Linked DNA regions of Homo sapiens: regions 2 and 3 are each linked to region 1. The links come from fine-mapping of genetic effects on gene expression. A gene starts in region 1. Each other region holds a variant in brackets. All regions are shown on one strand. Distances are from middle to middle. Region 1 holds the start of BAZ2B-AS1 (BAZ2B antisense RNA 1). Region 2 overlaps BAZ2B (bromodomain adjacent to zinc finger domain 2B). Region 3 overlaps BAZ2B (bromodomain adjacent to zinc finger domain 2B).

Region 1 (5,227 bases):
TCTAAAAATTGTAAATAAACAATATTCAAGTAAAATCAGTATCATAATGTTATGTATAAAACTCAAAAATTAAAACTAAAATATATCCTTCCTTCATTTAATAAGTATTTCATAAATGATGCCAGCAGTATTCCAATAAATGCATTTCCAAGACTGAAGAGTTTAGAAGTATTTTTTCATTAGTGTTTGTAAGAGTAAATGGTACTACAATTCGGCACTAGTTTAACATGTGAGAACAGTGAAGCTACTATTATCTGGATTTTAAAATATGTACCCATTCCTGTTTCTCTCCAACCATTATAAGAACACAATATTAAGTTCTCATAAATAACTTTGTATTTTTAAAGCATACAATCTGATTTTCTAAAAAAAAAAAAAAAAAAGACTCTTCATCATCGTAGGCTTAAAATAATTTTAAATTCAACCACTTGTTTCAAATACTTGTAAAAATTACTTTTTTCTATCTGAACCATACGAGTGTCTTAATGTTGTCCAAATTACTGATTATGCAGCAGAGTGACAATAATATGTACAGTGTTTACAATAGGTGTGAGACATCAAATGTACTTAACTACCATTTTCTTAAACTGCTTATCCTCTGTTGCTTGCCATTTATAATCTGCCAAATCTTCTAGTCCTTTGTTGCATGTATAATTTAGAACCATCTGTTCTATGTGCTTTTAACTATTTAAACATTTTTCACCTACCTACAATTCACATAAATGGCAGACACTCAACTCAGTCAAGCTTTCTATATAGCATATTACATGAAGCAAATTCCTGGATAAATAGATAACACCAAAGAAGACTGCTACAGAAATAAAAACTTACCATATAGAACATAAATTTCTGTGTGTTACACAAACCTTTTCAATGTATTCAGAATTGTTTCTATTAGCTTTTTTTAAGTTAATTGTAGTCAGTGTTTTTCCCTCAACCCAGAAGACAAAGAGAATGCAAATTAAATACAGACAGTTTCATGTCCTTGTTAGAAGAGATGTAAATATGCTGACTGAAAATGACTACAGGAGACAGAATTCCACTTTCCCATTCAATATACAGTGCCTCTTATTTATATACTAGTCAGTGTATCATTAAGCTTGGTCATGTGACCAAACCAACTTTTGTGAGGCGAAAAACTATGTTAGACAAGCAAATTAAAACAGTGCTAGTTTTTGTTTATCTGTTCATAATGGCTGACAAAGAGTTTATAGCTAGCGATTATAAAATAACTTTTAAAATCAATTCTGCCTCTTAAATACTCAATAATTGTTTGACTTAATATCTGCTACTAAATTTTAAAGTATCCATTATCTTAAGGTATTTTCCATAGTCATTTCTTTTCAAAATGTAAATAAATAATAGAAAAAGAAAACCCCAGAACATTTTATTAGAAACGGGGAGCCAGATAATCTAAAATAACCATACATAAATATTAACCAAGCTAATTTTCAAAAAATCCATAAGGGAGAGTGGAGCAAATAAGAAAGGGAATATACTGACTACAGATAACAGTTGAAACCTTTAAATTAAAAAAAAAAGTACACAAAAACCAGATAAATAACAAATGACGCACAAGTTTTTTACCATTTTTTGCATATAATCTTCCACCTGTTACCAAAACATACAATACGCAGACTTCGTATACTGATTTTGAGAGCAAAACACAAAAATAAGCCACACAACTTATCAGTAACCTGTAAGTTACACAATCCTATAAAACAGGAGAAAAATTAAGCAAAAAATTTACTCTTGGGAAAATTTCTCCGTAAAGTTTACATGACGTCACTGGGCCCCCTGAACATTCCCTAAACTTTGAGACTTATCCAGACACACTTCCTAATACTTCTTTCCTTTCCTCAAAAATAAAAAAGAGAGAGACTTGGGAATAAAATTGCCCAAGATGGCGAAACGCTTGTTGTTTAGAGGGCAGGAAAAAAAATGGAGGATATTGTAATATACACAAAGGGATAAATTTCAACAACTCGGCCAAGGACTGCAGCTGCTTCCCTCTTTATAAGGAAGCAACAGACAAAAGATAAATACAGAGGGAGAAAGAAAAGAAGAGAAAATCTCCCAAACAACAGAGCCAGCTCTGACTCTTCAAACACTTCCTTCCCCTTCTCAAATCCCAATTCTGGGGTTCGTGAAACTACTTAAAGGGGAGGGAGCCGCGAAAGAGAACGGGGGCTGGGGGGAGGGGTAGCGACAAGAAGATTAAAAGAGGGAAGCAGAGGAGTTGGGAGCTGGCGGTCGTTCCCGGGGAAGAACTGCTAAAACATGAGACCAAGGCACAGACCTTACTGTATGAGAAGCAATGCTCCTCAAACCTTCTGCGTGCTGACATAGACCTTCCCAGGTATCCAGATCTTTTCCCAATCCCACCTGCCCCACCCCCACCCCCGCTCATCTTCAGTAAACTCAGAGCCTCCAGCTACACACGGGAGAGCTAGAGGCCCAAGCCGGGGAGTGGGGGTGGCAGACGCAGCTCGTCAGTCCGACAGGGAAGAGGGGGCGGAGGCAAAAAAGGGCAGCAGGAGGCGGACGGGGGTGGGGGGTGATCCAGAAACTACCCCGGCAGGGAGTGGGGGAGCAGCGGATATTCCGGGGTAGGAACGGCCATCGCAACGCTGACAGAGGTTGTTTTTTAAGAAGCAAAACTGTTGGCGGCGACCTGAGCGCTGGAAGCCGAAGGGGAAGAGGAAGGAGACGCGAAGCCAGGGCGGCCGGCACAAAGGCGGCGGACTCGCGGCGGCAGCGCCTGCCCGGCCGGGAGCACAACCCACGGCCCTACTCCAGCGAAGTCCCGCACCGGCTTCTAGGAATAAAGTTTACGTTCTCCTGAGGCCGCACCCCCCACCTCCCACCCAGGACGGCACATCTCCGTGTCCTCCTCCCCCAAACTCCACTCGGGACCCCGAGAACCACCCCAGCCTTCCGGCCACCACAACAAAGAGCCGCACCGACCGGCGAGGATAAACAGCGGCGGAGGGCGAGAGGGCGGCGGGGCGAGCGCCTCCACGCAGCAACTCCGGAGTCCCCCGCTTGCCCGAGCGCAGTTTCTCCGCTGCTGTTTCCACCGGCTTTGTAACACTGGGAATTTACATCCTCACCCGCACCCCTCACGCCCGAGGATTTTAAACTCACCTTTACTCTCGAACTGAGAGTTGCGGTAGATGGGATTTTTGCCTTTTCCCCAGATGGTTGAAGGTTAAGATTTTTGGAAACCCCACCACCTCCTTATTTCTATTATTATTTCTGCAAGAAAAGTATAAAGAGAGTTGTAGTGGAGGTGAGATTTGTGATCGGGAAAGCCTTCGACTCCCTCCTTCTCCGTCTTCCGCCTCTCTCTCTCTGATTAGTTCCTATCCAGCAGCAGATTGAAGCAGGAGATGATTCTTCTCAAGGTTTGTTCAGCAGCTTCACTTCTAGGCGAAGGCTTCATGAACCAAGTGACGTCAACCAACAAGGCTTCTCTCTCTCTCCTCTCTCTAACAATGAAAGTTGCTGTTAACAAGGGAAAAAAAGAGAGAGAATTGTTTATACCATTTCAGTTCCAATAATAAATGACCTATCAGCTCCTAAAGGAGCCAAGGGAGGGGGTTGCTTCTTCTTTCCAAGAATACTGTAGCTTTGAGTTTGCACCGTTCCTTGTCCCAGGAAAAAGTTAAGAAACTTAAAATGTTTTGTTTTGCTTTTAAAGAAGACAGGACAGAAAACGGGATTTAAAACTTAGTTTTTAAAAAAACAAAAGCTACAGAGTAGGGAGCATAGGTCAACCATCTCCACCTAAATTTTTTTTGTTCCTAAACTCAGAATTCTACAACCCAACTAAATTAATATGCCAAGATTTTGCGGATGTTAAAACTCAAAAAAAGCAGTATGCAAGACGGTCCCGGGGTAAAATTCTACTGCCTTTCCACGGACAAGTTAAACTGGCTGTAATGTTTATGCACTAAGTTAAAATAAAATTTAAATAAAAGACGTTAAAATAGTCGTTTTAAAGTTATATGCACACACTGTAAAAGGTAATCTCGATAGCTTTTTTTCAAGTTTCTGAGAGATTAGAAAAAAAGCATAGCAAATTGTAGGCACTGAACACTTTTTAAAAATCAAGTTATGAGTAAGACTGGTAGCCCTTTGCTCCTTTAAACTACAAATGCAGTCATATGCTATGGTCTACCCCCAGAATCTCTTCCAACTTTGTTTTTACCCTTCCACTCCCCCAACCCCAATTCCCAAATCCTGCAACCAATCAAGTTAAACTAAAGATACAATAGGCCCCATTCCCTCCCGCACCCCATCCTATAGATTCCTAAAAACAATTTTTTTAAAAGCCTTAATCTTGATAACACTTTATTAGCCAAGAAGATACGTATTTTTTTTTTTAGAAGTTCGTTGAGGTACCGTTTTTTCCCTCCAGAACACAAGAAAGTCTCAAAGTTCATATAATTAAAAATTGCATAATTTAATTTTCAGGATGAAGAGTAAGTAAAAATTAAGCTATCGGAGAATAATTTGATCATCTATGTATATTTTATACATATGTGGATAAATGTATCTTAAAAGATGCTATTGTTTTATGTTTCCTCTTCAGCCACTGGCTGTGATTTTAATTGTGCTGGAGGATCTTCATTAGTATTAACACATGGGGAGATTTCACAAAGCTGCTTCATTAGGAAAAAAAAAAAGCTTGGCAGACTCGGTCTTTTTGCATGCACTGAGAATGTCAGCCTTACCTCGGTCATTTGTAACATAATAAGTGCAAGTACAATGATTGCAATGCAGGAGCACTGGGGGAAGGGCAGAAATACTGCCTGTCTAATAGGGATATCTGAAAAGAAGGCTGCTCATTACAGAGTAAAATGTATGCTAAAAATTAGTGAAGATGATGTCTCAGGAGACTGATGCTAAATAAATTAATGTGCTGATATGTTTTTAATTATTATTTTTGTAGTAGTTTATTTCATTCTCAGGATTCACATTGAGCAGCAAAGCTGTGCTAGCACTTATTGATTTTTTTTCCCTGCCACATTCCCGGAATACAGATTTTAATCATTTCACTACACCACACTCAGTAATTTCATTAAAAACTGGAATCTTCCATCCCCAGAAAAGCATTTAATTTCAATGACATACAATTTCTCTTTTAGCAGCAAACTGTCTCTACAGTAAAAACTGGCCTAAGGTTCAAATGCATAATTTAATCCTGAGTTTTCCATGCTCT
Region 2 (5,227 bases), 36 kb before region 1:
GAGTATGACCTTATTTTTATAAATGTGTGTGTATATTTACAGGGAAGAGCATTTACCACGTTAAAGAGGTTAGCTCCAAATAGTAGAATTTTAAGTGACTTAACTGTCTTTAAAAAATTATTTCTGCATTAGTTACACTTTCTGTAAGTATGCATTACCTTTATAATCAGAAAAAAACTATTTTGATTTCTTTAAATAAATTTGAAAAACAAAGAACTAAAAGAGGATACCAGTTCTTGGTCCAATGATTGTTTTCACTACACAAAATGATCTGCTTGATCCAAGCAAATGTTCAGTTAGGGAGGAAAAATACTTTAAATGTGCCCTAAGATTAGAGAAACCTGACAGCCTAGGGAAAGATGAAAAATAATAACAATTATGTGACAAGACTCAAGAATATCTCTATCTTAAAACGTATCTGCTTCAGTTTAGATTGACCAAAGTCCTTTTATACACCACAAGAAATAAAAGTAGGTACCTTAATGGGAAGGAGAAAGGCTAAAGAAATAGCTAAGAAACTTACTAAACACACTGAAACTTATAATACTGCTTTTCAAGCTATTCTTAAAGTAATTAAAAGAATTATTCAACATGAGAAAAGAACTAGTTCATTTATGTTAGAGGACTTAAGTAATTTAAAGAAAGCTACATCAAATTGTCTGAAACCTCACTTGTTTTCACTTGTCATTAATTACCTACCAAGATATCACCTGCTGACAAAAAGAAAAACCTAAAGACATAGAAACTTTAACTTTCCCTAGTATGAACACATGAAAACTGTTCTTTTCCCTTATAAAAACTCTAGTGCTTAGCTTTCTTATTTGAATTCAGGAAAGAGTACTAAATGAAGACAAAAATTCAAAGCAAAAGGAACAACACTGAACAACAGAGTCAAGAAACAGACTGTGGTTTCAATTTTCTACTAACTCTTAATTTTATAAGTAAAACAAGAAGATTGACAAGAGCTTCAAATACTTTTAATGGAGGATCAGTGATACAATACACTCTTTGAAAAATTCACAGTTCATAAAAAAAAGAAAAGTTCTATGGTAAAATAAGTTCAGAAAATTGTGCACACCCTTTGCCCTTTTTGGAGATCCATAATGCAGAACAGAAAATACTTCTGTATAACCCAATGTTTCCCAAAATGAGAGACAAACAAAATGTCCCTCAACAAAGGAATGATTTAAAAATGCTTACATTAGACAGATCAACGAGACAAAAAGTTAACAAGGATATCCAGGAATTGAACTCAGCTCTGCACCAAGCAGACCTAATAGACATCTACAGAACTCTCCACCCCAAATCAACAGAATATACATTCTTCTCAGCAACACATCGCACTTATTCCAAAATTGACCACACAGTTGGAAGTAAAGCACTCCTCAGCAAATGTAAAAGAACAGAAATTTTAACAACTGTCTCTAGGACCACAGTGCAATCAAACTAGGAATCAGGATTAAGAAACTCACTCAAAACCGCTTAACTACATGGAAACCGAACAACCTGCTCCTCAATGACTACTGGGTACATAACGAGATGAAGGCAGAAATAAAGATGTTCTTTGAAACCAATGAGAACAAAGACACAACATACCACCACCTCTGGGACACATTTAAAGCAGTGTGTAGAGGGAAATTTATAGCACTAAATGCCCATGAGAAAGCAGGAAAGATCTAAAATTGACACCCTAACGTCACAATTAAAAGAACTACATAAGCAACAGCAAACAAATTCAAAAGCTAGCAGAAGACAACAAATAACTAAGATCAGAGCAGAACTGAAGGAGACAGAGACACAAAAAAACCCTTCAAAAAATCAATGAATCCAGCAGCTGGTTTTTTGAAAACATCAACAAAACTGATAGATCGCTAGCAAGACTAATAAAGAAGAAAAGAGAGAAGAATCAAATAGACGCAATAAAAAAATGACAAACGGGGTATCACCACCGATCCCCCAGAAATACAAACTACCATCAGAGAATACTATAAACACCTCTACGCAAATAAACAAGAAAATCTAGAAGAAATGGATAAATTCCTGGACACATACACCCTCCCAAGACTAAACCAGGAAGAAGTTGAATCCCTGAATAGATCAATAACAAGCTCTGAAATTGAGGCAATAATTAATAGCCTACCAACGAAAACAAGTCCAGGACCAGATGGATTCACAGCCGAATTCTACCAGCGGTACAAAGAGGAGCTGGTACCATTCCTTCTGAAACTATTCCAATCAATAGAAAAAGAGGGAATCCTCCCTAACTCATTTTAATGCCAACATCATCCTGATACCAAAGCCTGGCAGAGACACAACAAAAAAAAGATAATTTTAGACCAATATCCCTGATGAACATCGATGCAAAAATCCTCAATAAAATACTGGCAAACTGAATCCAGCAGCAAAAGCTTATCCAACACGATCACATTGGCTTCATCCCTGGGATGCAAGGCTGGTTCAACATACACAAATCAATAAATGTAATACACCATATAAACAGAACCAAAGACAAAAACCACATCATTATCTCAATAGATGCAGAAAAGGCCTTCAACAAAATTTAACAGCCCTTCATGCTAAAACCTCTCAATAAACTAGGTATTGATGGGATGTATCTCAAAATAATAAGAGATATTTATGACAAACCCACAGCCAATATCATACTGAATGGGCAAAAACTGGAAGCATTCCCTTTGAAAACTGGCACAAGGCAGGGATGCCCTCTCTCACCACTCCTATTCAACATAGTGTTGGAAGTTCTGGCCA[G/C]GGCAATCAGGCAGGAGAAAGAAATAAAGGGTATTGAATAAGGAAAAGAGGAAGTCAAATTGTCCCTGTTTGCAGATGACATGATTTTTTATTTAGAAAACCCCATCGTCTCAGCCCAAAATCTCCTTAAGCTGATAAGCAACTTCAGTAAAGTCTCAGGATACAAAATCAATGTGCAAAAATCACAAGCATTCCTATATACCAATAATAGAGAAACAGCCAAATCATGAGTGAACTCCCATTCACAATTGCTTCAAAGAGAATAAAATACCTAGGAATCCAACTTACAAGGGATGTGAAGGACCTCTTCAAGGAGAACTACAAACCACGGCTCAACAAAATAAAGGATGACACAAACAAATAGAAGAACATTCCATGCTCATGGATAGGAAGAACCAATATCGTGAAAATGGCCATACTGCCCAAGGTAATTTATAGATTCAATACCATCCCCATCAAGCTACCAATGACTTTCTTCACAGAACTGGAAAAAACTACTTTAAAGTTCATATGGAACCAAAAAAGAGCTCGCGTTGCCAAGACAATCCTAAGCCAAAAGAACAAAGCTGGAGGCATCACACTATCTGACTTCAAACTATACTGCAAGGCTACAGTAACCAAAACAGCATGGCTACAGTAACCAAAACAGACATAGAGACCAATGGAACAGAACAGAGGCCTCAGAAATAATACTACACATCTACAACCATCTGATCTTTGACAAACCTGAGAAAAACAAGCAATGGGGAAAGGATTCCCTATTTAATAAATGGTGTTGGGAAAACTGGCTAGCCATATGTAGAAAGCTGAAACTGGATCCCTTCCTCACACCTTATACAAAAATTAATTCAAGATGGATTAAAGACTTAAATGTCAGACCTAAAATCATAAAAATCCTAGAAGAAAACCTAGACAATACCATTCAGGACATAGGCATGGGCAAAGACTTCATGACTAAAACACCAAAAGCAATGGCAACAAAAGCCACAATTGACAAATGGGATCTAATTAAACTAAAGAGCTTCTGCACAGCAAAAGAAACTACCATCAGAGTGAACAGGCAACCTACAGAATGGGAGAAAATTTTTACGATCTACCCATCTGACAAAGGGCTAATATCCAGAATCTACAAAGAACTTAAACAAATTTACAAGAAAAAAAAAATCAAACCACCACGTCAAAAAGTGGACAAAGGATACGAACAGACACTTCTCAAAAGAAGACATTTATGCAGCCAACAGACACATGAAAAAATGCTCATCATCACTGGCCATCAGAGAAATGCAAATCAAAACCACTATGAGATACCATCTCATGCCAGTTAGAATGGCGATCATTAAAAAGTCAGGAAACAACAGGTGCTGGAGAGGATGTGGAGAAATAGGAACACTTTTACACTGTTGGTGGGACTGTAAACTAGTTCAACCATTGTGGAAGACAGTGTGGTGATTCCTCAAGGATCTAGAACTAGAAATACCATTTGACCCAGCTGTCCCATTACTAGGTATACACCCAAAGGATTATAAATCATGCTGCTATAAAGACACATGCACATGTATGTTTATTGCAGCACTATTCACAATAGCAAAGAATTGGAAACAACCCAAATGTCCATCAATGATAGACTGGATAAAGAAAATGTGGCACATATACACCATGGAATACTATGCAGCCATAAAAAAGGATGAGTTCATGTCATTTGTAGGGATATGGATGAAGCTGGAAACCATCATTCTGAGCAAACTATCACAAGGACAGAAAACCAAACACCGCATGTTCTCACTCATAGGTGCGAATTGAACAATGAGAACACTTGGACACAGAGTCAGGAACATCACACACTAGGGCCTGTCGGGTGGGGGGAGGGGGGAGGGATAGCATTAGGAGATATACCTAATGTAAATTACAAGTTAATGGGTGCAGCACACTAACGTGGCACATGTGTACATATGTAACAAACCTGCACGTTGTGCACATGTACCCTAGAACTTAAAGTATAAAAAAAATGCTTACACATCACTGTATAATCCTTTTAAAGAAAACGTATTTATATATATTCACATGGCAGACTTCTGTTGCATAGGTAGAATATATAATCAAACTGCAGAATGCATATTTAATTAGATTTTAAAAAATAAGTATATATATTCATGTGCATATTAAAAAGGTCTGAAAGAATGTACAGCAAACCATTTTAAAGTAGTTCTGGAAACTGCCATCAGCAGGGCCAAAGGGAATATATTTACTTTATGAATGGACAGATTTGAGTTTCTCCGGTAAGAATATATCGCTTTGTAATACAAATAAGTAGCCACCAGAAAACATAAATGCACTGGGTAAGTTCACATACTTTTTTTTTGAGACTCTGTAGCTCACGCTGGAGTGGTGTGCGATCACGGCTCACTGCAGCTTCAGCCTCCCAGGTTCAAGCTCAGCCTCCGGAGTAGCTGGGACAGCAGGC
Region 3 (5,227 bases), 63 kb before region 1:
AAAAATCTCATAATGTTTTGATAAAGTTTCCAAATTTGTGTTAGGATGCACTGATAGCTGTCCTGGGCTGCATGTGGCCCACAGGCCACAGGTTGGACAAGCTTGACTTAAACCATGGAGACAGTAGAGTTCAAATAAAACAAGTGAGATGTTTAAAAAAAAAAAAAAAAGACATTTTCACACTGGCATAAACTTTTTTCTTTCTTTTTTTTTTTTTTTTTGATACAGAGTCTTGCTGTGTAGCCCAGGCTGGAGTGCAGTGGTGCAATCTCAGCTCACTGCAACCTCCGCCTCCCGAGTTCAAGCAATTCTCCTGCCTCAGCCTCCTGAGTAGCTGGAACTACAGGCATGTGCCACCACGCCTGGCGAATTTTTGTATTTTTAGTAGAGATGGGGTTTTGCCATGTCGGCCAAGCTGGTCTCAAAACTCCAGACAAGTGATCTGCCCACCTCTGCCTGATCCACCCACCTCAGCCTCCCAAAGTCCTGGGATTAAAAAAGGCGTGAGCCACCGCATCCGGCCACAATGGCATAAACATTCTTCATCAAGCTAGCTTGGTGTATCAGGATTAGTTTTGGCCAGGAGTGACAGAAAGCCCAAAAGTGAATGGCTCATACAATACAGAATTTTATCTCTGTCATGTCAAAGAAATCCAGGGATAGGCAGGCCAGTAGGGACAGTGTAACATCATGTTAGTAAGGATTTTCTTTCTTACTGCTGCTTTACCCATTCTCAGTATAGGGTTTCCACTCACAGTCCAATTATGCTCACAATTCAGCCAGCAAGGAGGAAGGGGGCGAAAAAGAGGATGTGCACCCATTCCTTTAAGGATACATCCTGAAAGTTGCACACACTACTTCTGCCTATATATCTCTTGCCAAAATTTAGCCAGATTACTATACCTAGCTGCAAGGGAGACTGGGGAAATGATGTTTTTATTCTAGGTAGTGATATACCGGAAAAAAAATTAGAAGAGGGGGAAAACCAGTATTAGGGACAACTATCAATCATGCCATACTTGGTTATATCTTCTCTGTGGTAGGTACCTGACATTTTAAATTTACTAGCTAACACCAGTATTTCTGACAGTATGTACACTATAAAGTTATACAGCAATTCCTTCTACATCTCAATTATTAAGTATTACTATTGGGAGAGGTGTATCTCTACAAAATTTAAGTAATATTCATAATAAAATTACCAAAGAGAAAAATAGAAAAAAAAATTTTTTTGAGGCAAGGTCTTCCTCTGTAGCCTAGGCTGGAGTACAATGGTACAATCTTGGCTTACTGCAGCCTTGAACTCCTGGACTCAAGCAATCCTTCCACCTCAGCTTCCCGAGTAGCTGGGACTACAGGCTTGAGCCACCATGCCTAGCTGATTTTGTTTATTATTTTGTAGAGACAAAGTCTCACTATATTGCCCAGGTTGGTCTTTAACTCCAGGGCTCAAGCAATCCCCCCTGTTGGGCTCCCAAAGTGCTGGTATTACAGGAGTGAGAGCCACTGTGCCCAGGCAAGAAATTTTAATAAAAACAGAAAAAGCCACTTTATTTAAAAGGTTGCCGGCCGGGCACGGTGGCTCACGCCTATAATCCCAGCACTTTGGGAGGCCGAGGTGGGCGGATCACGAAGTCAGGAGATCAAAACCATCCTGGCTAACATGGTGAAACCCCGTCTCTACTAAAAATACAAAAAATTAGCTGGGCGTGGTGGCGGAAACCTGTAGTCCCACCTACTCAGGAGGCTGAGGCAGGAGAATGGTGTGAACCCGGGAGGTGAACCTGGCAGTGGGCCAAGACTACACCACTGCACTCCAGCCTGGGTGACAGTGAGACTCAGACTCAAAAAAAAAAAAAAAAAAAAAAAAGTTGCCTTAGGACAGATTATTAAATATACAGTAAAATATTAAATAAGAATATCTGAAGATAAAATATAGCCACTATAATAATGAAATTACATATAAACAAGACTGCATGTAAATGCAACTGCAAAAATACGCTCAGAGAAGACAGAGGATTAAGGGAGATTTAAGAAAATAACCTCTGAATTATTTTATTATACTTTCTATAAATGCTATTTAGACACCTTTAATCAAGTAAGAACTGATCACAAAACAGAACAGTAAAAATTCTAACAGGATAAAGCAAAGTCAGGTTAGTCCAAGTTCTCAAATCATGTAATTTTAGACAAGTAACTTTACAGATATTGATGAGTATGATGAGGGTAAGAAAAGTGTAGTATGTGCCATCTTTTGTGCTAAGTGCTTTATGAGCAATGTTTATTTAATATTCCAGACATAATAATATTATCCCTACTCTAGAAAAGAAAAAATTGGGTCTTAGACTAAGAAACTGACTCATGATCACATCAGCTACAGAAGTAGCAGAACACAAACTAAAACAAAGGTTTTTCTAACCCCAAGTCCATGTCCTTAACTATTATGTGCACTACTTTCCCACAAACTCTCTAGACCTTGGTTTTCTCGCCCATTACCTAAGGGGAATGCAGAGTACTCTAAACTATTCTATAGTTCATTTTGGTTTTTTAAGATGTTGCCATTCTAGTTCTCTGACTCCCTTTTCCTCAAATAAAAGAACATTATATTAATAGGTCCAATTGGCCTCCTTGCTGAAACTTGCTGAAAGTCAATAAAGTTATCACTAATATACATAATGTAGAAAT[C/A]TATTTATTAAAACAGACAAAATGGCCACAATTTGTAAGTAAGGTAAATTTGAATGTTTAGGATATATCACTGAACTTTATAGTAGATTTCACGCCCATTGGTGTTATCTGTAAAGGAGTAAGCCATAAAATTCTATCACGAAGAGGGAGGAAAGCTAATAAAAATTGAATTTAAATTTCATAATCCTTTTAAATTCAAATAATGCATCGTTTTATAGGTGAAGATACTGAGGCACAAAGAGGCTGACTTGCTAGAAGTCACATCGCTAGTACACAGTGACGTTAGTACTTGAACTCTATAGGTTCTAAAATCTAAGCTCTTTTCTATCCACCCTGCTTCCTGTGGTTAAATTATATTAATGTATTAATATCCTTATTTCAATTTTAATATAAGAACACTAAAGATACTAATTGATTTAGCACTTTCTGGTTTATTATGATTGCCAACAAACATTTGCTGAGTATCGTAAGATGTGTATTAAAATAAGTACCCTAAATACAATTATGTTATCAGTAACCCTGGAGTAATAAAAATTAAGCATTACCAAACTATTAGGAACAGAGAACAAGGATGATTAGGGAAAACCTCAGGGAGATGATTATATGTGGATATGGTATTAGAGAGACAGTTTGATTTCACCAGAAGAAATTTTTTTAAGTGTGAAAAGAAAAAGAATATTCTAGGTAAAGGGAATAGCATGAATGTAAGTGTGGAGCCAAAATGTGTATCCAAGGTAGGGAATGTAGTCCACATTAGGTAGAGTGTACAGTTCTTATTCTTGAGTAATAGAAAATATGCTGAAGACAGCCTGGGCACAGTTGTTCACTCCTATAATCCCTGCACTTTGAGAGGCCAAGGCGGGTAGATCACTTGAGGTCAGGAGTTCGAGGCCAGCCTGGCCAACATGATAAAACCCTGTCTCTACTAAAAATACAAAAATTAGCTGGGCCTGGTGGCACCTGCTTGTAATCCCAGCTACTTGGAAGGCTGAGGCAGGAGAATCACCTGAACCCAGGAGGCAGAGGCTGCAGTGAGCCAAGATTGCACCACTGCACTCCAGCCTGGGCAAGAGTGAGACTCTGTCTCAAAAAAAAAAAAAAAAAAAAAAAAGAAAAGAAAGAAAGAAAAGAAAATATGCTGAAGACAAACTGAGGAAGGATCTTAAATACCAAGTTAGAAGGTCTGGATTTGATCACATAGGAAATGAGAAGCCACCACACATTTTCAAGTAGAGAAATAAAAGGAACCGAGCAATGCTTTAATCAGATCAAACTGGGAGTTGTGTACAAGTTTCAGTGGAATTGATAATGGCCAGGAAGAAGGGAGATCAGTTAAAAGGTTTTGACATTTATATGGATTGTGACATCAAAGAAAAAAACAGCAATTCTCCTGACTTCTGAAAATTTTGATTAAAACATATATAAAGTATATATTACATAATATATAAATAGCTACTACACTTCAGCTCTGAAACAACCCATAATATAATCTCCCTCTCTAACCATAACATTTTACTTTTAGTTCTTACTATGTCATCTCATTATACCAGTTTATGGATCTATGACTAGTCTCCTGATCTCTCTACTTCCTTTGGATAAATCAGCCCTTTCCTGGCCTCATTTTATTCCAGCCACACGGTAAACATATATTTGAACTACTCTCTCACTAGCACTCTGAACCTGAATCAATGTTGAAATCTACCCTCTTTTCTTAACTCAAAGGGCCAGCAAAAGCCTCACAACAGTGTCATAACAAACTTAAGGTTTCTAATATCAGTCACTTATGAACCTCTCAAATGAACACTTCTTACTCTTTAACTGATATTTAACATCTAATAATATTAAATATCACCTCTCTTCCTGAAATTCTTGGATTTAGATCAGTTGCAATTAATTACTCTCTTAATGTTACCCTAAAAATAAACTGTGGGAAAAAAAATTTAAATAAAAATAAGCTGTGGGAGTCAGCATTTTTAAATTTTAAAAAAGGTTTCATTTAATGCTAATGTTAACTTCCTTGATTGTAAAGCACTAGATGCTAAACAGAAGGTTTCTATAGAAATATGTCAATATTTTATTATAAAATATTCAGTTAGGGCAATAAAGTTCTAATTAAGAAAAAATAAACAAGGAAAGAGCTACAAATCAAAGAAAGCTAAAATGCTGCCTCAGGAAAATGAATAAAATATGCTATAAGCATTAGTAGACAAAATTATGATGATAAAGCCTTTAAAAATAAATAAAATTTCTCTCTAGTCTCTGCAAAATGTTAAACTTAACAAATGAACCAGTTTTCAAAAAAAAAAGATTGAACATAAATAAAAACATTATTGATATGTGAATTTATACTTCTAATAATTAATGCTTCTGGATTTAATGAGTTAAATTAAAACAGTTGAAGAAGCAGGATCATGGAGTAAATAATTTGGTAGAAATTTATTTATCTGTTATTTAAGAGAATTTTTCAAAAATGATATAAAGTTCATGATTGTAATTCAGATTTTATCACTTAGAATTTTCTAATGTGGATAAAGGCCCTGGA

The links.
Region 2: its variant is fine-mapped to the expression of BAZ2B-AS1 in whole blood (TOPMed, PIP above 0.99).
Region 3: its variant is fine-mapped to the expression of BAZ2B-AS1 in whole blood (TOPMed, PIP above 0.99).

Annotation. Positions count from the first base shown.
Region 1 is chr2:159,613,095-159,618,321 of GRCh38, forward strand. BAZ2B-AS1 (BAZ2B antisense RNA 1) reads left to right here and starts at 2,200. Exons shown (of 2, transcript NR_110588.1): 1 at 2,200-2,359; 2 at 2,656-4,948. BAZ2B (bromodomain adjacent to zinc finger domain 2B) reads right to left here and starts at 3,454. Exons shown (of 37, transcript NM_013450.4): 1 at 3,148-3,454. RefSeq lists enhancers at 1,405-1,933, 2,990-3,516, 3,144-3,223, 3,474-3,543.
Region 2 is chr2:159,577,302-159,582,528 of GRCh38, forward strand. The region is part of intron 1 of BAZ2B (bromodomain adjacent to zinc finger domain 2B); the gene reads right to left. Among named protein-coding and RNA genes, the nearest start is that of BAZ2B-AS1, 35 kb to the right of the region's middle. The variant G/C (reference allele first, on the strand shown) is at 2,767.
Region 3 is chr2:159,549,621-159,554,847 of GRCh38, forward strand. All of the region lies in intron 2 of BAZ2B (bromodomain adjacent to zinc finger domain 2B), which reads right to left. Among named protein-coding and RNA genes, the nearest start is that of BAZ2B-AS1, 63 kb to the right of the region's middle. The variant C/A (reference allele first, on the strand shown) is at 2,686.